Linked DNA regions of Homo sapiens: all the other regions are linked to region 2. The links come from fine-mapping of genetic effects on gene expression. A gene starts in region 2. Each other region holds a variant in brackets. All regions are shown on one strand. Distances are from middle to middle.

Region 1 (8,179 bases), 25 kb before region 2:
ACTAAGTGAAGCAAGTAAGCATATACAGATGCTCAGCAAAATTTTTTTTTTTTTTAAGACAGAGTCTCACTCTGTTGCCCAGGTTGGAGTGCAATGGCCCAATTTCGGCTCACTACAACCTCCCCCTCCCGGGTTCAAGCAATTCTTGTGCCTCAGTCTCCCAAGTAGCTGGGATTACAGGCATGCACCACCATGCCCTGCTAATTTTTGTAATTTTAGTAGAGATGGGGTTTCACCATGTTGGCCAGGCTGGTCTCGAACTCCTGACCTCTCAGGTGATCTGCCTGCCTCAGCCTCCCAAAGTGTTGGGATTACAGGCGTGAGCCACCGCGCCCAGCCAGATGCTCAAGAAATTTTAATTTCTTGGCCATGTTTTTGTGGGCGGTTGAGGCCAAACTGCAGGAGGCGAAGGAGTGATCTTAGGCAATGAGAGTGATTTGAAAGATGGTGAGGGTTGAGGCATTGGCTTTTCTTTTACAAGCAGAAGATTTATTTGTAGCTGGATAGAACTAGTAGATGGAAAGTGATTCTTGTTGCCTTTGCTTTTTTTTTTTTTTTTAATGTGTTTTTGTTTTGTTTTGAGACTGTCTTGCTCTGACACAGGCTGGAGTGCAGTGATGTGATCATGGCTCACTGTAGCCTCGACTTCCCGGGCTCCAACAATCCTTCCGTCTCAGCCTCCAGAGTAGCTGGGACCACAGGCGTGCACCTCCACACATGGCTAATTTTTGTGGTTTTGGTCTCATGTTGCCCAGGCTGGTGTCAAATTCCTGAGTTCAAGCTCTCTGCCTGTCTTGGCTTCCCAGAGTGCTAGGATTACAGGCGTGAGCCACCACAGCTGGCCTCCTTTGTATCTTAGGTAAGGTTGAGATTTCAACATTTTATTTTATCTGATTCACTCATGTATACCCTTAGAAGGAAACGGGTACTCTGGTAAGTTTTTTGTTTGTTTGTTTGTTTTTCTAAGACGGAGTCTTGCTCTGTTGCCCAGGCTGGAGTCCAGTGGCACAATCTCGGCTCACTGCAACCTCTGCCTCCCAGGTTCAAGCGATTCTCCTTCCTTAGCCTCCTGAGTAGCTGGGATCACAGGCATGTGCCACCACGCCTGGCTAATTTATTGTAGCTTTAGCAGAGATGGGGTTTCACCATGTTGGCTGGACTGGTCTTGAACTCCTAGCCTGAAGTGATCCGCCCACCTCACCCTCCAAAGTGCTGGGATTACAAGCATGAGCTACTGCACCTGGGGTGCTCTAGGAATTTTTACTTTTTTTTTTTTTTTTCGAGACAGGGTCTTGCTCTGTCACCCAGGCTGGAGTACAGTGGTGTGGTATCAGCTCACTGCAACCTCTGCCTCCTGGGCTCAAGCAATCCTCCTATCTCAGCCTCTGAGGAGCTGGTACTACAGATGCATGCTACCACACCCAGCTAATTTTTGTATTTTTTTGTAGACCACGTTGCCCAGGCTGGTATGGGTTTTTTGTGTTTTGTTTTTCTTTTGAGACAGAGTTTTGCTCTGTCGCCCAGGCTAGAGTACAGTGGCATGATCTCGGCTCACTGCAAGCTCTGCCTCCCAGGTTCATGCCATTCTCCTGCCTCAGCCTCCCGAGTAGCTGGGACTACAGGTGCCCGCCACCACGCCTGGCTTATTTTTTGTATTTTTAGTAGAGACGGGGTTTCACCGTGTTAGCCAGGATGGTCTCAAACTCCTGGACTCAAACGATCCACCTGCCTCGGCCTCCCAAAGTGCTGGGATTATAGGCGTGAGCCACCGTGCCCGGCCTGGTATGTTTTTAAATGGTTGAAAAATCAATGAAAAATATTTCGGCCAGGCGCGGTGGCTCACACCTGTAATCCCAGCACTTTGGGAGGCTGAGGCGGGTGGATTACAAGGTCAGGAGTTCGAGACCAGCCTGGCCAATATGGTGAAACCATGTCTCTACTAAAAATATAAAAATTAGCTGGGCATGGTGGCACGCACCTATAGTCCCAGCTACACGGGAAGCTGAGGCAGAAGAATCGTTTGAACCCAAGATGTGGAGGTTGCAGTGAGCCGAGATCATGCTGCTGTACTCCAGGCTGGGCGACAGAGCGAGACTCTGACTCAAAAAAAAAAAAATTTTTCATAATATATAAAAACTGTATGAAATTCAGAATATGGGCCGGGCATGGTGGCTCACACCTGTAATCCCAGCACTTTGGGAGGCCAAGGTGGGTGGATCACAAGGTAGGAGATCAAGACCATCCTGGCTAACATGGTGAAACCCCGTCTCTACTAAAAATACAAAAAATTAGCCGGGCGTGGTGGCGGGCACCTGTGGTCCCCACTACTCCGGAGGCTGAGGCAGGAGAATGGCATGAACCTGGGAGGCGGAGGTTGCAGTGAGCCGAGATCATGCCACTGCACTCCAGCCTGGGCGACAGAGCAAGACTCTGTCTCAAAAAATAATAAATTCAAATATGGTGTCCATAAATAAGGTTTTATTGGAACACAGTCACACGCCCTCATTCATTTACATATTATCTGTGGCTTATTTTTTTGCCTTTTAGTAAATTATGGTAAGATCATACATAAAATTTACCATCTTGACCTTTTTTTTTTTTTTTTTTTTTTTTGAGATGGAGTCTCGCTCTGTCGCCCAGGCTGGAGTGCAGTGGCGCCATCTCGGTTTACTGCAACCTCTGCCTCCCAGGTTCACGCCATTCTCCTGCCTCAGCCTCCCGAGTAGCTGGGACCACAGGCATCAGCCACCACGCCCGGCTAATTTTTTATATTAGTAGAGACGGGGTTTCACCGTGTTAGCCAGGATGGTCTCAATCTCCTGACCTCGTGATCCGCCCACCTGGGCCTCCCGAAGTGCTGGGATTACAGGCATGAGCCACTGCACCTGGCCTCATCTTGACCATTTTTGAGTTTACAGTACAGTGGCATTAGGTACATTCACACTGTGCATTATCTATAGCTGCTTTTGCATTAAAATGACATAGTGAGTAGTTGGACCAGAGAGTACTATTTGCCTGTTTACAGAAAGTTTGCCCACCTTTACTCTAAAATAATAGAAATAATTTTCACAAGAAGCAAACTTACAAAAATCACAAGGCATGTTACTAGAAGGCAAAAGTGACTAGATAAATTCAATCTACTGGTGAATTTGTCTCATCAAACTTTCTTCACACACACACCCATTAGGCAAATTGAATCAACTTCTTTGTTGTGCTGGAAAAAGTAGGTACATCTTGGCCAGGCGCGGTGGCTCACGCCTGTAATCCCAGCACTTGGGGAGGCTGAGGTGAGTGGATCACCTGAGGTCAGAAGTTTGAGACCAGCTGGCCAACACAGTGAAACGCTATCTCTACTAAAAATACAAAAAATTTACTGGGCATGGTGGCGAGCGCCTGTAATCCCAGCAGGAGGCTAAGGCAGAAGAATCGCTTGAACCTGGGAGGCGGAGGTTGCGGTGAGCCGAGATCATGCCATTGCACTCCAGCCTGGGTAACAAGAATGAAACTCCATCTCAAAAAAAAAAAAAAGTAGGTACATCTTTTAGCTTGATGGATCCTAGCTCTACCTAAAGAAGTAGATGGGTTGGGTGCAGTGGCTCACGCCTCTAATCCCAGCACTTTGGGAGGCTGAAGCGGACGGATCATGAGGTTAGGAGTTCAAGACCAGCCTTCCCAACATGGTGAAACCCCGTCTCTACAAAAATTAGCTGGGCATGGTGGTGCACGTCTGTAGTCCCAGCCACTCAGGAGGCTGAGGCAGGAGAACTGTTTGAACCTGGGAGGCGTAGGTTGCAGAGAGCCGAGATCGTGCCACTGCATTCCAGCCTGGCGACAGATCAAGACTCTGTCTCAAACAAACAAAAGAAGTAGATGGTAAATATGAGGATCCTTCCACAGCTTGACTTGGATGGACAGGGCTTCTACCCTAACAGGATGGGGTCTCTAGCCTTTTTCTTTCCTACAGTTTGTTTTAATTAAGTTTCAAAGCAGGCCGGGTGCGGTGGCTCACGCCTGTAATCCCAGCACTTTGGGAAGCCGAGGTGGGTGGATCACGAAGTCAGGAGATCAAGACCATCCTGGCTAACACGGTGAAACCCCATCTCTACTAAAAATACAAAAAATTAGCCAGGCGAGGTGGCGGGCACCGGTAGTCCCAGCTACTCGGGAGGCTGAGGCAGGAGAATGGCATGAACCCGGGAGGCGGAGCTTGCAGTGAGCCAAGATGGCACCACTGCACTCCAGCCTGGGCGACAGAGCCAGACTCCGTCTCAAAAAAAAAAAAAAAAAAGAAAATAAATTTCAAAGCAATTAATAGTTTGTCACATTTGTTTATATGTTATATATCTACACAC[G/A]TCACTTCACCCCTGAATACTTCAGCAAAAATCTGAGAAAAAGGACTTTTGCCTCCTACATAAACACAATTCTGTTCTATTTCAAGAAGTTTAGCATCAGGCTAGGCGCAGTGGGTCACGCCTATAACCCTGGCACTTTGGGAGGCCGAGGCGGGTGGATCACCTGAGGTCAGAAGTTCGAGACCAGGCTGACCAACACTGAGACACCCTGTCTCTATTAAAACTACAGAAATTAGCTGGGCGTAGTGGCTCATGCCTGTAATCCCAGCTATTCAGGAGGCTGAGGCAGGAGAATCGCTTGAACCTGGAAGATGGAGGTTGCAGTGAGCCAAGATTGGCCATTGCACTCCAGCCTGGGCAACAAGAGTGAAACTCCGTCTCAAAATAAAAAAAAAAAAATAATAAGTTTAGCATCAAATACATACAGTTCATATTTCTGAAGAGTCCAGGCCAGTTGTAGAATGTCCTGTAATCTGCCTGTGTCTGTTTCCTAATTATTCAAATCCAGCTAAACATTTTTGGCAAAAATACTATGTGAAATTCCAATTGTATCCCCTCAGGAGGGACATGATGTCAGTTTGTCCTCATGTCTTTTTATTACATACACCTACCAGCTGATGGAAGGCAGCATAATGTAGCAGTAAGATGAGAAAATGGGGTTTGGATTCAGACTTGGGTATAAATCCCAGTCTACTGTATAACAGTCATATGACTGTGTATATGTTGCCTACACTTCTGTCCTTTTGTTTCCTTATCTGAAAATGGGAGCCACCTCACAAGGATATAACAAGAATGAAAGGTTAGCAGATTATGTTCTATTTGTTATAATCATTTTTTTGGTTGTGCTTGGGAAAATGGCTTAAGCCTAGTCATTCTCTCCTAAGTTTTGCTAACTATCACTTCAGTTTTTCCTGGCTGTTTGTTTAACTGGATGCCAGAGAGCTTGTCCTTAGCAGCAGAGCCTATTAGTCTATAGTCACATTTTGCAGTAACATTGTTTAGTTTGCCATTTTGCTGCATTGGAGAAGTTTGGTTGAACGCCAAGTGAGATGACTCTGTGCTGGGCTTGGCCTTTGTCTTAAACGGGTTTAGTGTGTTGCTGTAAAGGGATACCTGAGGCTGGGTAACTTTTTTTTGTTTGTTTTGTTTGAGACGGCATCTCGCTCTGTCGCCCAGGCTGGAGTGCGATGGCGTGATCTCTGCTCACTGCAACCTCTGCCTCCCGAGTTCAAGCGATTCTCCTGCCTCAGCCTCCCGAGTAGCTGGGACTACAGGTGCCCGCCCCCACGCTCAGCTAATTTTTATACTTTTAATAGAGACGGGGTTTCACCATGTTGGCCAGGTTGGTCTTGATCTCTTGACCTTGTGATCCACCCGCCTCGGCCTCCCAAAGTGCTGGGATTACAGGCGTGAGCCACTGCGCCCGGCCTGGGGCTGGGTAATTTTTAAAGTAAAGGGGCTCATGCCTGTAATCCCAGTGCCTTGGGAGGCCAAGGCAGGAGGATTACTTGAGGCCAGGAGTTCGAGACCAGCCTGGGCCACATAGTGAGACCCCCATCTCTACCAAAAAAATTTTAAAAACTAGCCAGGTACAGTGGTATGTACCTATAGTCCCAGCTACTCAGAAAGGTGAGATGGACTGATTGCTTGGGCCCAGGAGTTCAAGGATACAGTGAGCTATGATCACAGCACTGTACTCCAGCTTGGGCAACAAGGCAAGACCCCATCTCTTAACAAAAAATGTTTATTAGGCCGGGCACAGTGGCTCACGCCTGTAATCCCAACACTTTGGGAGGCTGAGGCGGGCGGATCACCTGAGGTCAGGAGTTCAAGACCAGCCTGACCAACATGGAGAAACCCCATTTCTACTAGAAATACAAAATTACAGGCGTGGTGGCACATGCCTGTAATCCCAGCTACTCAGGAGGCTGAGCCAGGAGAATCGCCTGAACTGGGGAAGTGGAGGTTGGGGTGAGCCGAGATCATGCCACTGCACTCCAGCCTGGGCAATAATAGTGAAACTTGGTCTAAAAAAAAAAAACGTTTATTAGCTCACGGTTGTTTTGGTTGTACAAGAAGCATGGAACTGGCATCTACTTAGCTTCTGGTGAGGGCCTCAGGCTGCTTCCACTCATGGCGGAAGGCAGAGGGGAGCAGGCTTGAGCAGAAATCACTTGGTGAGCGAGGAAGCAAGAGGAAGGGGAGATACCAGGCTCTTTAATATCTAACTCTCTTGAGATGGTGGGGCCACCTTTTCCTGGCCAGTTTATCCTGACCTATTCTGAATCCACCAAGGCCCTGAATCTCAGCTCCATCTCCTCCTCTGCCTCCCACTATACCCCACAGACAAAGTGGTCATTCCTTTCTGAAGAACAGGCTGAGACTTTTCTGGGACCTGCTCTTTCTGGAGCCTCTGATGTTCCCTGTCTGGGTCTCCACGTGCCTCCTTCGTGGTTCTTTGAGGAATCAGCTTCAATGTCACCTCCAAGTGTGATCTTCACTGATGACACAGCTCAGCACAGACCTGCCTGCTTCTCATTTATCTCAAGTAATTAACCAACCTACACCACGTGGCTGAATTCCCTCTCTCTGCACGTGTGTTTGTGTGTGTGTGTGGTCACACCATCTTATGTGACATTAATACCTAGTTATCTATACAGATAATATATATTCACACATAAATATATATCTAAGACTATCCCTATAACTAGTAAATTTCCACTGCTATGTTTTTTTGTTTTTTGGCTCCTTGGCTAAATCCACACTTCAAGAAAGCAGAGATAGTTTTTGTTTGTTTGTTTGTTTGTTTGTTTGTTTTGAGACGGAGTCTCACTCTGTTGCCCAGGCTGGAGTGCAGTGGCACGATCTCGGCTCCCTGCAACCTCCGCCTCCTGGGTTCAAGCCATTCTCCTGCCTCAGCCTCCTGAGTAGCTGGAATTACAGGCGCACCCCACCACGTCCGGCTAATTTTGTATTTTTAGTAGAGATGGGGTTTCACCACGTTGGTCAGGCTGGTCTCAAACTCCTGACCTTGTGATCCGCCTGCCTTGGCCTCCCAAAGTGCTGGGATTACAGGCGTGAGCCACTGCGCCTGGCCGCAGAGATAGTTTTTATGGCCCACTATATATATATAATTGATATTTTTTTAAAAACCCAGCTCTCTCAGGAACTTATAGAATAAGAACTTACCACCTTCAGAGAGAGCATTAATGTATTCGTGAGGGATCCACCCCCATGACCCAGATACCTCCTATTAGGCCCCACCTCCAACACTGGGGATCAAATTTAAACATGGGGTTTGGTGGAGACAAGCCACAGCAGCCCGCCACAGCTGTGGCCATACCTTTGCATATAACTGTGAGGACAATGGTGGGTCTGGTAACCTGGGAACCCAGAAAGACCTGCAGATTCATAGGTCCTATCTAGTTATCTGTACTCTACCAATAATGAGAGAAGTTCCTTGGGCTAGAGGCCACAACCTGGTGAGACAGTGGCTTCTGAGATGGAAGAGAGCTTGAAAGGGAAGTAGCAGGATAAAAAAAAAAAATCTCTGTCCTCCATCCCTTTTAATGTTTAACCCCAGATACTTGCCTGTATGAAGGAATTCAGCTCCAGTCAACAGCAGAACCAGAATTCTCAACTGATGATGGAGATGTATCTGTCCCAGGACCAAGAAAGTTTAGGGAATAACTTAGATTTAGAGCCAGGGATAAAGAGTAACTGCCCAATGAGGGTTCCAAAAGCCAGGGTAGTAGTCCTTGCTCCTAACAGCCAATAATCTCTCCCCGAGGATTCACTACCCCCCAATAACAAAGAAATAAGACTGG
Region 2 (8,179 bases):
CTCAGAATGCCTAGGTGGAAGGCATCCTAAGAGTCCTCTATGCCAGTCTGCCTCCAACCATCTGGAGAAGATGACCAGTTGGGAAGCAGCACTCAACTAAGAAGGGCCCTGCTCCACAAAGACTAGGCAAGCAATGCTAAGTTGCCAACAGGTCATCTAAGTGGGGCCCCTTTTAGTGTTCCACTTGGGCAAGGGGGTTGAGAACTGTCCCCAGAGTCTGGTGTCTGCTGGGAAGCCCAGGCCAGAGCATTGCACCCAACCAGGAATATAACTGTGTCCACCTTGCTGGGAGATCCGCTTCACCAACAGGTTGAGCTGTTCCACCACCACCTTCTTCTCACTCTTCATCAGGTGGGAGAAACAGCTCTGCAGAGAGGAGGCCACAGCCTGGGAGTCATGGCTCATGGTCTGCTTCAGGTGTGTTGCTGCCTCATCTCCAATCAGGAACTGAAACTCAGGCACCTCTACAGGAAGGCAAGGCCCAGGGCCCATATCAGGAATGGTAAGATGGAACCCACACAAGTGGGGAGTTGGAGGACACCTTTCCATCCCAGCCCTAACCAAAGAGCCGGCAATGCTAAGTAAACTTTGCAGTGGAAACCAATCACTCACCACCAGCCCTTGACTACCACACCTGAGCCTGGTCTCACTGGCCTGGCTCACTGGCTCCAAAAACTGCTTCATGAGGCCCTTCAGTTCCTGTGACATGTGACCCGTTCTCAGCCACTGTTCCTATCATCTTGGTTCCCCAGGTATCCCTGGCCCAGTACGCATGCCTTCAGCATTCTGCCCAACTTACTCTTTAGAAAGGTTACAATCTCCTCAACTGGCCGGAAGCCACACAAGCCCTGGAAGGGGGTGAGGGCAATGGCCATCTCTGGCTTGTGGTTGGCATCGGGGTAGTGCTGCGGAGCCTGGAGGTGCAGCTTCTCTGCCAGCTCCTGTGGGGTGGCCAGGGGAAGAGGAGGATGGTGAGGGTACAGCCATTACCTAGCAGGTACACCAGTGCCACCTAGCCCCTGCTGTCCACCCTCCCCAGTTGCAGGATGGCAGTGACTACCTACCTCTGGCAAGGAGCCCAGTCAAAGCATGTTGCAGAAACTTGGGGCTCAGCCAACCCAGGGCAGGGGCAAATCAGGGGCAACCCCGGGGCAAATCAGGGAAAAGCTGGGGCAGACTTTAAGAGGCTTGGCCTGTGAATCAGGAAACCCAAATACCAGACCAAGCTCTGACACTAACAAGCTGTGTGGCTTTGGTAAATCCCTCCCTTCTCTGGGTCTTACTTTGTGTATCTAGAAATAAGGAGTTTTGGCTGGGCATGGTGGCTCACGCCTGTAATCCCAGCACTTTGGGAGGCTGAGGCGAGCGGATTACGAGGGCAGGAGTTCAAGACCAGCCTGGCCAACATGGTGAAACCCCATCTCTACTAAAAATACAAAAATTAGCTGGGTGTGGTGGCGCGTGCCTGTAGTCCCAGCTATTTGCGAGGCTGAAGCAGAAGAATTGCTTGAATTGGGAGGAGGAGGTTGCAGTGAGCCGAGATCGCGCCACTGCACTCCAGCCTGGGCGACAGAGCAAGACTCAAGTCTCAGAAAAAAAAAAAAAGGAGTTTTGATCCACAGTTGCTTAGGATGGGACTCCGGCTTGTGTAGGGAGACTCCATGGGGGTGGGGCTGAGGGTACCTGCCCTGCCTTGCAAGTTGAACTCTTCCTGAAAGCAGATGAGTAAATGGCAGATATGAATAGACATGGGTTGGATGAGGGAAGACCAGGAACAAGCCCCTTGGAATGAGCTTAGAGAAACTCCCCTGGCACAGGCCGGTGAGCTGTTTGCTTAGACTTAGTTGCTGCATGTGTCACTACCATCTGGCTTTGCAGAGCTAAATTGGGAGTTGTCAGCCTGGATTTGGCCTTGGGCAGGAGCCTGGCATGGGTGGGGTAAAAGTGGCAGTAAAAGTCACGGGAGGGCCTTAGCATAAGCCCTTCTGTACCCTGACCTCTGCACCGCACTCTGTCCTTTACCTTGTTAGGGTGTGCCTGGATGGACAGGGGTGTTTCAACTGAGAGCACTTTGAAGAGGAAGGGCAGGTTGCCATTAAAGGTGTCCTTGACCTTTGAGCCCAAGCTGTCCTGGTTCTCAGCAATCCACTGGCTTAGGGTCTTCTGTGAGATGCGGTTGTCAAGGATCTTGGCATCCCCTCGGGGGTGAGTCCCCATCCACAACTGGAAAGACAGGAAACTTGGGAGGGGAAGGGGGAAGAAACCTGCCACCCTGAGTTGGCCTGTCCCAATCCGTTATGCTGTGCTCCCCACAGGGCAACTGAGTCCTGGGAAAGGCCTCCCAGGTCTGGATACAAATGTTCATGCCATCATGGACATACAGGGAGGCAGTAGACCCAGGCCCTTGTCCAGACTCGGCCTCTAGCCATCTATGAAGACTTGGACTAGTTATTTCCCTTCTTTAGATGTATCTTCTTTGTCTGTCCAAAGAGGAGAATGACATCTGCACTGTCAAGGTAGCAGAAAAACTATGACTCTTAAATGATTCTTTCAGGGGTTAACATACATCTTCCAGTTTCAGAAGCAGAGGCGAAAGCCTTCCTATGCTTTGGCTTTTTCTCCACTAAATAGGCAGGAGAAATATTTTAGGTTAATAAAAATGCAAAAAAATAGTCAAAGTAAAAAAACTTAATTGTCAAAGAGGGCTGAATTAAAATTCACTAAGTGCTAAGAGTGGTTGGGGGAAGGAGAGTGCTGGAAATCCCAGCCTATTATGACAAAACCTCTCTTCTTTTTGATAACACTATCTAGTCCATTAGCCTGAAGAGCCAAGTGGGTCTCCTCCCTCCTTGCTGCCTCACCCTTCCCAGCTGATTCTTATGACTTGCCTCAGGCCCTTTCTCCTGACCTGCGGGTAAAGTGGGCTGAAATACAGCCCGGGGCTCACCTCTGCATAAGGCTTGTCCTCTGCGATCTGGGCCAGTGGATCACTGCTGGCCAACAGCCGCGCCACTTCGCTGTTGGAACCCATCTTCCCCCAGGCATACTGCTGCACCGCACAGGAAAGTGGGAATACTAGGGGCACAGACAGGGTCAGCTGCCACTCCACTCCTCAGGCCCCACCCTAGTGTCCCGGGAAACCAGGCAAGAGCTGGGGGTGCTCACTGGGGACAGAGTCAAATAAGGGTTTTGTAGGCTGTTGGATGAGACCCCCCTCCGCTGCAGGCCTCGATGTTCCCAACTGTCAGATGGGCAGCAGTAAGGACCTTGTGCTGATCTGAGGCAGGGTGGCGGGGAGGGAGCAGAAGGTACCTATCCCACGGCACGACGTCTAGAAGGGCCCCCTCCCCTCGGAGGTCAATCCCCATCGCAGGTGGCCACACCTCTGCCCGGCACCCACCCATCTTTCCGCGGAATGCCAGGAGCGGACTCAACCTGGCCGATAATGCCGGGAGTCGTCCCCAGGACGCGCTCCACGAACACACTCGCCGACACCCCAGCCAATGGCTCACCTCGCGGAGCGGCCATGCTCGCCCCCTGCACCAGGATTAAGCACGTATGCCTTTCCCGGCAGCCCCCGCGGCCCTCTGCGCCCAGAGCTTCACGGGAAATGTAGTTCCCTGAGCGTTCCGCCAGGCCCCGGGGCACCCGTGCCCAGAGGCTTACGGCCGCGATCTTCGGTCTCACTATTCATTCATTCTTTCCATCGCCGGGCACAGATGTACTGAAAACCTGCTAAGTACCACGGACTGTTCTAAGGGCTGGAGGATACATCAGAGAGCAAGATAGCCTTCCCTCTGCCTTTGTAGAGCGCTTACATTCTGGTGAAGGCAAGACAGACAAGTATTGTAAGCAAATCATGTAGTATGTTGAAAGGTCAAGGCCACAAAAAGTAAGGGGGCAGGTGGCAGTGGGAGGCAGTTTGCAGAATATAAAAGGCTGTCTGGGCAAGCCTCTTGAGGAGGTGAGGTTTGAGTCCAGACTTGGCGGTGAGGAAGGCAGGAGTGTTCTGCGGGGAGGAAACAGCCACAGCGGAAGCCAGAGCAAGGCGGGAATGTGGGACTGTGCCGGGCGTGTTGGGGAGGGAACTGCTAGCAAGGAGGCCACTGTGGCTGGAGCAGAGTGAGTAAGACAGGGGCAGTGAGGAGGTCAGAGAAGAGAGGAGGGGGGCAGAGCTTTGCAGGCTATTGCTATTGTGAAGACTTTGGGTTTTACTTCGAGTCTCAGCAATTACAGATTTGAGCAAAGAATTGCTGTGATGTGAGTAGGGACATACTAGTGATGATGATGGTAAATGTCACATGCAAGGCCCTTCACTGCTCTGAGCTTTGTAGAATGGGGTGAATAATGCCAGCCTGACATGCTTGTTGGAGGGTCAGATGGGATGACGTGAGACACCTATAAGGCAGTCAGCTCCCTGTGCTCCTCTGATCCTTCCCGTCCCAGGTGCTGTAGAAAGTCAGAACCCCAACTTCTACTCCAGGCTGAGCTGCTTACAAGTTGCACACACAGAAGTCAGGGGAATTACGAAGAGCTGTGCATAGGGAAGGATGGCCTTGGGCCTTGGCTCTGCAGTAATCTTGGCTATATCCTGTGGTGAAAGGCTTTGACATCCAGACCTTCTCAGTCAACAGCCTCCTAGGAGGAGGACAGTCAGTGGCTCAGGCCTGTAATCCTAGCACCTTAGGAGGCAGAGGCAGAAGGATTGCTTGAGGCTAGGAGCACAACAGTCAAAGCTCCGGGGAACCTGGAATGAGGAGTTACAGTCCTGACTCTACCCTCATCACCCCTGCAATACCCTCATTCCCACAGCCTCTACCATATGTGCCCAGGGGAAAGAGCGGGTGCCGTTTTCCCTGTAATCCTCTGCCCAGGTGTGGGTATCTATCTCACCTCCCCTGGGGTCCTCTGGCTCAAATAAATCAGCTTGCATTTTAAAGGAAGCTTTACCATGCACTAAGGAATAATAAAATGGATAATACAAGACTCATGACAGCCCCCCGCCTGGCCAGCCGCCCCGTCCGGGAGGGAGGTGGGGGGGTCAGCCCCCAGCCCGGCCAGCCGCCCCGTCCGGGAGGTGAGGGGCGCCTCTGCCCGGCCGCCCCTACTGGGAAGTGAGGAGCCCCTCTGCCCAGCCAGCTGCCCCGTCCGGGAGGGAGGTAGGGGGGTCAGCCCCCCGCCCGGCCAGCCACCCCGTCCGGGAGGTGAGGGGCGCCTCTGCCCGGCCGCCCCTACTGGGAAGTGAGGAGCCCCTCTGCCCGGCCACCACCCCGTCTGGGAGGTGTACCCAACAGCTCATTGAGAACGGGCCATGATGACAATGGCAGTTCTGTGGAATAGAAAGGGGGGAAAGGTGGGGGAAAGATTGAGAAATCGGATGGTTGCCGTGTCTGTGTAGAAAGAGGTAGACATGGGAGACTTTTCATTTTGTTCTGTACTAAGAAAAATTCTTCTGCCTTGGGATCCTGTTGATCGGTGACCTTACCCCCAACCCTGTGCTCTCTGAAACATGTGCTGTGTCCACTCAGGGTTAATGGATTAAGGGCGGTGCAAGATGTGCTTTGTTAAACAGACGCTTGAAGGCAGCATGCTCGTTAAGAGTCATCACCACTCCCTAATCTCAAGTACCCAGGGACACAAACACTGCGGAAGGCCGCAGGGTCCTCTGCCTAGGAAGACCAGAGACCTTTGTTCACTTGTTTATCTGCTGACCTTCCCTCCACTGTTGTCCTGTGACCCTGCCAAATCCCCCTCTGCGAGAAACACCCAAGAATGATCAATAAAAAAATAAAAAATAAATAAAAAAAAAAAAGACTCATGAAACAACGTACTCAATACCTCGTGCTTTGGAATACCACTCCTTTCCCTCATCTCCACTACCCAAGTGATATGATTTGGCTCTGTGTCCCCACCCAAATCTCATCTTGAATTGTAATCCCCACATGTTGAGGGAGGGACCTGGTGGGAGGTGATTGGATCATGGGGGTGGTTTCCCCCATGCTGTTCTCATGATAGTGAGTGAGTTCTCCCAAGAGCTGATGGTTTTAAAGTGTGGCACTTTCTCGCTCTCTCTCCTACTGCCATCTAAGATGTGCCTCGCTTCCCCTTTGCCTTCTGTCATGATTATAAGCTCCTGAGGCCTCCCCAGCCATGTAGAACTGTGAGTCAATTAAACCTCCTTTCTTTTTTTTTATTTTTTCTTTTTGAGTATTGAGTCTTGCTCCGTTGCCCAGGCTGGAGTGCAGTGGCATGATCTCAGCTCACTGCAAGCTCTGTTTCCCAGGTTCAAGTGATTCTCCTGCCTCAGCCACCCAAGTAGCTGGGTGCACACCACCATGCCCGGCTAATTTTTGTATTTTTAGTAGAGGCGAGGTTTCACCATTTTGCCCAGGCTGGTCTCGAACTCCTGACCTCAGGTGATCCACCTGCCTTGACTTCCCAAAGTGCTGAGATTACAGGCATGAGCCACCGCGTCAGGCCAAACCTCCTTTTTTTTTTTTTTTTGAGATGGAGTCTCACTCTGTCACCCAGAGTAGAGTGCAGTGGCACGATCTTGGCTCACTGCAACCTCCGCCTCCCGGGTTCAAGCGATTCTCCTGTCTCAGCCTCCCAAATAGCTGGGACTACAGGCACGTGCCACCATGCCCGGCTAATTTTTGTATTTTTAGTAGAGACGGGGTTTCACCATGTTGGCCAGGCTGGTCTCAAAATCCTGACTGCAGGTGATCCACCCACCTCAGCCTCCCAAAGTGCTGGGTTACAGGCATGAGCCACCATGCCTGGCCCAAACCTCCTTTCTTTATAAATTACCCAATTCAGGTAGTATCTTTATAGCAGCATGAAAACGGACTAATACACCAAGCAATAGGAACCTTCTCAGATAAGAACGAGGGACTAATGAGGCTCAAGGAGTTCTTGGAGCACTCCCCACTACCACTACCACAGAAAACAGAGTCAGGGTTATTTGCTCATAGTATCCCTGCAAAGTGAAGGAAGAACTTAGATTGTTGGGAGATACAGACCACCCCCCAACCCCATGCCACCCTCCCCCAATACAGAAAAACTTATCTGTAAGAGAAACTAGGGTGTTTGGAGAACCTAGAACCTTCTACTTCTTCCCTCTTGCTGGTCTATCTTGAGAAAAGAGATTTTATCTGAGGAATGTGCATCCTTTTATATTATCAGGCCCAGAGAGACATTGATATGGAGGACAGACCCTTCTTAGGTGCCCCTCTGGCCCGCAAGTATGGAGATAAAGGGAAAATTTTGAGTCCCTTCAAGGGAGATTTCAGGAACTAGCTAGCCCTGCACCCAGCAATTAGGGAAGTAAATGAATAACCCACCAAGGAAGAAGGTAATAGTAACTTAAGCAGCCACCCAAGTAAGCCAGAGTCACAAGATGTTTAGTTCTCTATAAAAACTAAAGATAGGGGCTGGGCGTGGTGGCTCATGCCTGTAATCCCAGCACTTTGGGAGGCCAAGGCGGGCAGATCATGAGATAGAGTTCAGGAGATCGAGACCATCCTGGTTAACACGATGAAACCCCGTCTCTACTAAAAATACAAAAAATTAGCCGGGCGTGGTGGCAGGCGCCTGTAGTCCCAGCTACTCGGGAGGCTGAGGCAGGAGAATGGCAGTGAGTGGAGATCGTGCCACTGCACCCCAGCCTGGGCGACAGAGCAAGGCTCCGTCTCAAAATAAAAAAAAAAACAAAAAAACAAACAACAACTAAAGACAGAGTGCAGTGGCTCAGGCCTGTAATCCTAGCAGTTTAGGAGGCAGAGGTAGAAGGATGGCTTGAGGCCAGGAGTTCAAGACCAACCTGGCCAACATAGCAAGATCTCATTACTATTTAAAAAAAAATGAAAATAATATCTTGGCCAGGTGCAGTGGCTCACACGTGTAATTCCAACACGTTGGGAGGCCAAGGCGGAGGATAACTTGTGTCCAGGAATTCAAGACCAGCCTGGGCAACATAGCAAGACCCTGTCTCTAAACATACTTTAAAAATTAGCTGAGGGTGGTAGCACATGCCGGTAGTCCCAGCTACTCTGGAGGCTGAGGTGGGAGGATTGCTTGAGCCTGGAAAGTCGAGGCTGCAGTGAACTGTGATTGTACCACTGCACTCCAGCCTGGGTGACAGAGTGAGACTGCATCTCTAAAAACAAATAACACCTTG
Region 3 (8,179 bases), 53 kb before region 2:
ATCTCAAAAGCAAAACAAAAACAAAAAACCAAAAAAGAAAACGAAACAAACAAACAAAAAACAGATTACCTGGGCTAAACTCTAAACCAACAGGATCAGATTCTCCCAGGAGGGACCTGGGAATACACATTGTAATAAGATCTTCAGCTGATTTTGATGGTTCATCAAGATTGTTTATTCTCTGAGATGTTATGTAGCCACATTTACAGTGGTAAGAGAGACACAAAATTAAATCCCCTTCTTTTGCTTTTCACCTTCAGTAATGGTTTGAACATGTTTCTGGAGAGAAACACTGTTAAATAACTGCCACAGCCTGGGTTGGTGTCGCAACCTGTAGTCCCAGCTACTGGGGAGGCTGAGGCAGGAGGATCACTTGAGTCCAGGAGTTCAACACCAGCCTGGGCAAAATAGCCAGACCCAGTCTCTTAAAAAATAAAAAGCAGGCAGGGCGCGGTGGCTCACGCCTGTAATCCCAGCACTTTGGGAGGCCGAGGCAGGCGGATCACGAGGTCAGGAGATCGAGACCATCCTGGCTAACACGGTGAAACCCTGTCTCTACTAAAAATACAAAAAAATTAGCCAGGCATGGTGGCAGGCGCCTGTAGTCCCAGCTACTTGGGAGGCTGAGGCAGGAGAATGGCGTGAACCCAGGAGGCGGAGCTTGCAGTGAGCTGAGATCATGCCACTGCACTCCAGCTTGGGCGACAGAGTGAGACTCCATCTCAAGAAAAAAAAAGGCATTAGGATATAGGATACAGACGTGTTCACACAGACGAAAGACCATGTGAAAACAGGGAAAAAAGATGTCTATTTATAAGCCACTCACAAGAAACAACTGGGCTGGATGTGGTCCATAATCCCAGCACTTTGGGAGACTGAGGTGGGAGGATTGCTTGAGCCCAGAAGTCCAAGGTCGGCCTGGCAACATAGCAAGACCCTGTCCAAAAAATTGTCCAGGTGTAGTAGTGTTCACCTGTAGTCCCAGCTACTTAGGAGGCTGAGGCAGGAGGATCACTTAAGCCCAGGAGTTCGAAGCTGCAGTGACCTATGGTCATGTCACTACTCTCCAGCCTGGGCAACAGAGTGAGACCCTGTCTCTAAAAAAAACAAGACAAAGAAACAAAAAATCAAACTAATCTCGAAATTTAATTGTCATTGTGTTGGTGTTGGGAGGTGGAACCCTTAAGAGGTTTTTAGGTCATGAGGGCTCTACCCTCATGAATGGACCAGTGCCATTATTGCAAGAATGAGTTCTTGGCCAGACGCGGTGGCTCATGCCTGTAATCCCAGCACTTTGGGAGGCCAAGGTGGGCGGATCACCTGAGGTCAGGAGTTTGAGACGAGCCTGGCCAACATAGAGAAACACCGTGTCTGCTACAAATACAAAATTAGCTGGTCATGGTGGCAGATGCCTGTAATCCCAGCTACTTGGGAGGCTGAGGCAGGAGAATTACTTGAACCCAGGAGGTGGGGGTTGTGGTGAACCGAGGTCGAGTCATTGCACTCCAGCCTGTGGGGGGAAAAAAAGAATGATTTGTTCATCAAGGGAGTGGGTTCACCCCCTCTTGCATTCTCTGCCCTTCCACCATGTGATGCCTTCTGCCATGGGATGATGCAGCAAGAAGGCCCTCACAAGATGCCAGCACTTTGATATTGGACTTCTCAGCCTCCAGAAATATAAGCCAATACATTTCTGGTCATTATAAATTACCTGTACAAAAATTAGCTGGGTGAGGTGGCACATGCCTGTGGTCCTAGCTACTCAGGAGGCTGAGATGGGAGGATTGCTTGAGCGCAGGAGGTCAAGGCTGCAGTGAGCCAAGATCTCACCACTGCACTCCAGCCTGGGTGAGCCTGTCTCAATAAATAAATAAATAAATAAATTACCGAGTCTCAGGTATTCTGTTATAGCAACACAAAACAGACTAAAACATCCCCATCTCACAACTTGCCCTGCCCCGCTACAATTTTACAACAAGAAAATGCTCTTTTAGAGAGCAACAGTAAGCATTTATTGAGCTGTTACTGTATACCAGCCAGGACATAGTGTTTTATGTGCATTTTCTGAGGTAATCGTCCCAACAATCTATTAACCTATTAGGTAGGTTCCATTATTATCCCATTTTTTATTTGTTTTGTTTTTTGTTTTTTTGGAGATGGAGTCTTGCTCTGTCGCCTACGCTGAAGTGCAGTGGCGTGATCTCGGCTCACTGCAACCTCTGCCTCCCAGGTTCAAGCGATTCTCCTGTCTCAGCCTCCCAAGTAGCTGGGACTAAAGGCGCGTGCCACCATGCCTGGCTAATTTTTTGTTGTTGTTGTTGCCCAGGCTGGAGTGCAATGATGCAATCTTGGCTCACCACAACCTCCACCTCTCAGATTCAAGCGATTCGCCTGCCTCAGCCTCCCCAGTAGCTGGAATTACAGGCATGCTGGCATACTTGGGAGACTGAGGTAGGAGAATCGCTTGAAGCCGCGAGGCGGATTTTGTATTCTTAGTAGAGACAGGGTTCTCCATGTTGGTTAGGCTGGTCTTGAACTCCCAACCTCAGGTGATCCTCCTGCCTCGGCCTCCCAAAGTGCTGGGATTACAGGCGTGAGCTGCCACACCCGGCTATTCCCATTTTTTAGACAAGGAAACAGTGGTTCAGGGAATTGGAATAATTTGCCCAAGGGCATAAGGCAGAACTGTAGTTTAATAGCGGTGAGGGTGTCATTCTCTTGGGTGACTTTTTTCATTAGGCTCTGTTTTCGAAGCAGTCTAGTATTGAGATCCTGTTCACTGGAGATGCTCCTCAAGTAGGGGCCTGAGGAAATGGAAACCATGTAGACTCAGTAGACTAATGGCCTCGGGGGCCACTTTCAGTCTTTTTTTTTTTTGAGACAGAGTCTCACTCTGTCGCCCAGGCTGGAGTGCAGTGGCGCTATCTCGGCTCACTGCAAGCTCCGCCTGCCGGGTTCACGCCATTCTCATGCCTCAGCCTCCCAAGTAGCTGGGACTACAGGCGCCTGCCACCACACCCGGCTAATTTTTTGTATTTTTAGTAGAGATGGGGTTTCACTGTGTTAGCCAGGATGGTCTCGATCTCCTGACCTCGTGATCCGCCCGGCTCGGCCTCCCAAAGTGCCGGGATTACAGGCTTGAGCCACTGCACCCGGCCCCCACTTTCAGTCTTAAAATGGTAGGATTCTTTCATTTTTTTCCCCCTCTTTTTCCTGAGCACATGCTTAATTCCCACCAGAGAAAATAAGAGCTTTTCTAGCCTGGTGCGGTGGCTCATGCCTATAATCCCGGCAATTTGAGGGACCAAGGCAGGAGGATTGCTTGAAGCTAGGAGTTTGAGACCAGCCTGGGCAACATAACAAGACCCTATCTCAACAAAAATGTTAAAAAAATTAGCCGGGAATGGTAGTGCGTACCTGTAGTCCCAGCTACTTGGGAGGCTGAGGGGGGAAGATTGCTTTAGCCTAGGAGGTCAAAGCTGCAGTGAGCCATAATTCTGTCACTGCACTGTAGCCTGGGTGACAGAGCATGACCCTATCTCAAAAACATAAAAAAGAAAAGAAAAAGAAAAGAGAAGAAAAAACAAAAAAAAGAGCTTTTCTTGCACGTGAACTTAACCGTTACTAGAAATTCACATGGTGGAACAGTGTCTTTATCCTCACAAACTCCTCAGTAATGTCATTCCATCCCCCACACACATCAGAGGGACTGCCTCATCACAACTTTTCCAGAATGAAGGCCCTGAGCTGTAGCAGAAAGCTGATAGGCTGATCCACTGGTGACGATGACATTTCTGAGCCATCAGAAGTCCAGCTGTTGTGTTTTAAAAAAAGAAGAAGAAGCAAAAGTCCAGGTGTGGCTTCTCCAGAGGGACAGCGAAGGATTTCAAGGTAGGAAATGGCAGGAAGAGATAAAAGACCCTGAAGACCTTGAGTAAGAACCAGGATGTCTGCTCTGAGCCCATCAGGGAAGGGGTACCCTCCAGAAGCAATGGGATGGGCTTCAACCTGTGGACACATCTGGGGGCCAACTAGGAAACAAGCAAGGGCCCCCGTGCCTTAGTGATATGGTAGGCTGAATTCAAAGATAGCCCCAGGATTCATGCCCCCTGTTTACATGCCCTTGTACAATCTCCTCCTCTTGAGTAGGGGGCAGAATCTGTGAATTTCTTTAGATATCATTCCCAAGACTAGTTTACTAGTCAGTCTACTTTGAGTGAATCAAAAAGTTACCCTGGTGGGCTTGACCTAATCAGGTGAGGTCTTTTTTTTTCTTTTGACTGAGTCTTCTGTACCCCTGGCTGGAGTGCAATGGTGAGATCTTGGCTCACTGCAACCTCTGCCTCCCGGGTTCAAGCGATTCTCCTGCCTCAGCCTCCCAAGTAGCTGAGATTACAGGTGCCCACCACCACGCCCTGCTAATTTTTGTATTTTTAGTAGAGATGGGGTTTCACCATGTTGGCCAGGTTGGTCTCGAACTCCTGACCTCAAGTGATCCGCCCACCTTGAGATGAAGTCTTTAAAAGCAGGTAAAGTGTCAGAGAGACACTTTCCTGCTGCTTGGAATAAATAAGCTCCAGGATTGTAAGAAGGGCCTATGGAGAGAGCCAAGTGGAGAGGACATCAGGGCACTCTCTAGGAGTTGAGAGTGTCCTTGGCTGACAGCTACCGAGAAGAAATGAGGACCTTGTCCCACCACTGCAATGAAATCAATTCTGCCAACAACCTGAATGACCTTAGAAGAGGCCTCTGAGCTCCAGATGAGATGTCTAACCTAGCCGTGATCTTGATTTCAGTCTTGTGATAACCAGTAGAGAATTCAGTTATGCTATACCTGATAAATTGTTAGGCAGCAACAAAAAATGAATGCAGGCAATTAGGGCTGTGGACTGCTCTCAAGGTAGCAGAGAATTCAGAACTGACTGAAAGACAAGCAAAACCTACCTTCAGCAGTGGT[A/G]GGGAAAGAACAATTTCTGGAGTCAGACAAGTGGGGACTAAAACCTAACTACCACTATTTGTTAGCTGTATGATTTTTGGCAAGTATCCTTTAAGTCTATTCCTTTATCAATAAATCAGGGCTAGGCCGGGCATAGTGGTTCATGCCTGTAATCCCAACATTTTGGGAGGCCAAGGTGAGAGGATCACCTGAGGTCAGGAGTTCAAGACCAGCCTGGCCAACATGGTGAAACAGCGTCTCTACCAAAAATACAAAAATTAGACGGGCATGGTGGCGAGCACCTGTAGTCCCAGCTACTCGGGAGGCTGACGCAGGAGAATCACTTGAACCTGGCAGGCGGAGGTTGCAGTAAGCCAGGATCACACCACTGCACTCCAGCCTGAGCGACGGAGCGAGACTCCACCTCAAAAAAGAATAATAATAAAATAAAATAAATTTTGAAAATAGGGATAAAAACTTATCTCACAAGGTTGTTATGAGGCATAAATGGGATAATAGTTTGTGGCATGTAGTGGCACATTGTAAATTATAGTCATAATTGTATTTTAAAAAGAAAAAAAAACACTTCAGCAGCCAATCTAAGTGACTGTAGGCAAAGTGGAGGGATTCTGACAGCAGGGAGACCAGCTGGGATTCAAGCAATATAGCCCAGTGCTTTCTTACTTGCTTTTCTTACTTTTCTTACTTTCTTACCCTGACCTCATCTTAAGCTTCCAGCCTTGGAGATTTGATGAACACTAATTGAACTGCAGAGAGGTCAAAGGTTTCCCCGTTGCCCTTTGGCCAGTGTAGGGGCAGAAAGGGGTGATCCTTTTCCTCACCATCATAAGGGTCATGGCTGACACTCCCATAACAAAAGACAGGTTAAAAAGAAAAAACCATAACAAGTTTACTTGATCATAGTTTTATGTGACATGGGAGGCTTCAGACTGAAGACCCATAGATACAAGGAAAATCGTCCTTTATGCTTAGGTTCAATAAAGCATATGTAGAATTGTGATTGGACAAAAAGGGTCCAAGCTAACGGAAATGGATTGAGTGGGAAAACCCAGCAAAGCCTGTCTGTTCAAATCCTTCTGGCCTCTCTTTTGTAGCATTTCTTCCTCCCTGTCCTCCCTACTACTGGAACGAGTGTCTTTTCTTTCTTTTTTTTGGAGATAGAGTTTCACTCTTGTTGCCCAAGTTGGAGTGCAGTGGCAAGATCTCGGTCCACTGCAACCTCCACCTCCCAGGTTCAAGCAATTCTACTGTTTCAGCTTCCTGAGTAGCTGGGATTGCAGGCATGCACCACCATGCCCGGCTAATTTTGTATTTTCAGTAGAGACGGGGTTTCTTCACGTTGGTCAAGCTGGTCTCAAACTCCAGACCTCAGGTGATCCCCCCACCTCAGCCTCCCAAATTGCTGGGATTATAGGCATGAGCCATCGCGCCCAGCCTTAACTTCTTTTTTTCTTTTTTTGAGACGGAGTCGCACTCTGTCACCCAGGCTGGAGTACAGTTGTGCGATCTCGGCTCACTGCAACCTCCACCTCGCGGGCCCAAGTGATTCTCCTGCCTCAGGCTCCAGAGTAGCGTGCGCCACCACACCCAGCTAATTTTTGTATTTTTCGTAGAGACGGGGTTTCACCATGTTGGCCAGGATGGTCTCGAACTCCCGACCTCAGGTGATCTTCCCACCTCAGCCTCCCAAAGTGCTGGGATTACAGGCATGAGCCACCATACCTGGCCATGTTTCCTTTTCTCCTTTTTTTTAAAAAATTTTATTTTTGAGACGGAGTCTAGCTCTGTCACCCAGGCTGGAGTGCAGTGGTGTGATCTCGCCTCACCGCAACCTCCACCTCCTGGGTTCAAGTGATTTCTGGCTAATGTTAGTAATTTTAATAGAGATGGGGTTTCACCATGTTGGCCAGGCTGGTCTCAAACTCCTGACCTCAAGTGATCTCCTGGCCTTGGCGGCTCAAAGTGCTAGGATTACAGGCGTGAACCACCGTGCTCGGCCTTAATTTCTTTATGGCCAGCTGTTACATAGAAAGGCAAAGAGAAAGGTTAGAGCAATATTTTTAGGCTTTATGGCTGGCTTTGGGACAAAGGGGTTCTACTTTCTAGACCCCCTCTTGGGGAGGAGGGATTCTAGTTTCTGTGGCATGCCTGGAGGGAGAGTAAGGGGCAAGAGACAAGAGGGCAGAAGGTCAGAGAGAAACTGCTTCATAGGCCTTCACTTTGTGGTATTGTTTTCTAAGCCCCAGCACTAGGTTGGTGGGAAACGGTGAGGGCAGGTGCTTTGAAAACATTTTAAAAATCCTTTTCCCCGCCAGGTTCCTACCCACTGAAGCCACACTGCTAGGGAGGAAAAAGAGAAGGGCAGATGCTGAGGCCCTGGAGAGTCGGCCTGAAGTGAGGAAGTGGCACATGAATGGCCACCTTTTCTTTCCTCAGTGTGCCCAGGGATAGAGAATGGGAGACAGCAAGACAGAATACAATGTCTCATTAACTCTGGGCAGCATCCAGATACTTCAGGCCTGGGAGAGGTGTCCTTGACTGCCCAGGGGCTCAAAGTTAGGATGTAGCTAGTGAGATAAGATGCAACAACTGTGGAACTTGATCAACCCTATTTCAGAGCCATCGTGGATTCAGGAGCCCTCCTGTAGGAGATGGGAAACATTCAGGTGAGAGTCCTCAGAACTGGGGATGTGGCGAAAAGATCCTTGACTGCCAGCAGCAACCTAATTTCTGAGCCTCTTTCCTAATCTGTGAAATGAAGTAGTTTAACTCATTTTTTATGCAAGCTGGTTTGTGATATAAGAATATGTACTAATAAAATCCCTTACGCATAGGCCTTTTTTTTTTTTGAGATGGAGTTTTGATCTTGTTGCCCAGGCTGGAGTGCAATGGTGCGATCTCAACTCACTGCAACCTCTGCCTCCTGGGTTCCAGCAATTCTCCTGCCTCAGCCTCCCAAATAGCTGGGATTACAGGCATGCGCCACCACACCTGGCTAATTTTGCATTTTTAGTAGAGACAGGGGTTTCTCCATGTTGGTCAGGCTGGTCTCGAACTCCCGACCTCAGGTGATCCGCCCGCCTTGGGCTCCCAAAGTGCTAGGATTACAGGCGTGAGCAACCGCGTCCAGCGGCATTCTTTCCCCCATTCGCTGTTTTATTTTATGCCACAATGAGAAGGCGGGGCTAAGCAAAGTAGGTTTTTGTTTTGTTTGGTTTTTTT

The links. PIP is the estimated chance that this variant, and not a neighbour inherited with it, causes the effect.
Region 1: its variant is fine-mapped to the expression of MPI in whole blood (TOPMed, PIP above 0.99).
Region 3: its variant is fine-mapped to the expression of MPI in whole blood (TOPMed, PIP 0.92).

What each region holds. Positions count from the first base shown.
Region 1 is chr15:74,910,454-74,918,632 of GRCh38, reverse strand. No RefSeq gene overlaps it. Among named protein-coding and RNA genes, the nearest start is that of FAM219B, 7.7 kb to the right of the region's middle. The variant G/A (reference allele first, on the strand shown) is at 4,353.
Region 2 is chr15:74,885,423-74,893,601 of GRCh38, reverse strand. It overlaps MPI (mannose phosphate isomerase), which reads right to left and starts at 3,560. Exons shown (of 8, transcript NM_002435.3): 1 at 3,513-3,560; 2 at 2,948-3,075; 3 at 2,023-2,223; 4 at 800-941; 5 at 282-464. The coding sequence starts at 3,528. RefSeq lists enhancers at 3,234-3,313, 3,111-3,644, 3,434-3,733, 3,894-3,943.
Region 3 is chr15:74,938,694-74,946,872 of GRCh38, reverse strand. No RefSeq gene overlaps it. Among named protein-coding and RNA genes, the nearest start is that of COX5A, 4.7 kb to the right of the region's middle. The variant A/G (reference allele first, on the strand shown) is at 4,958.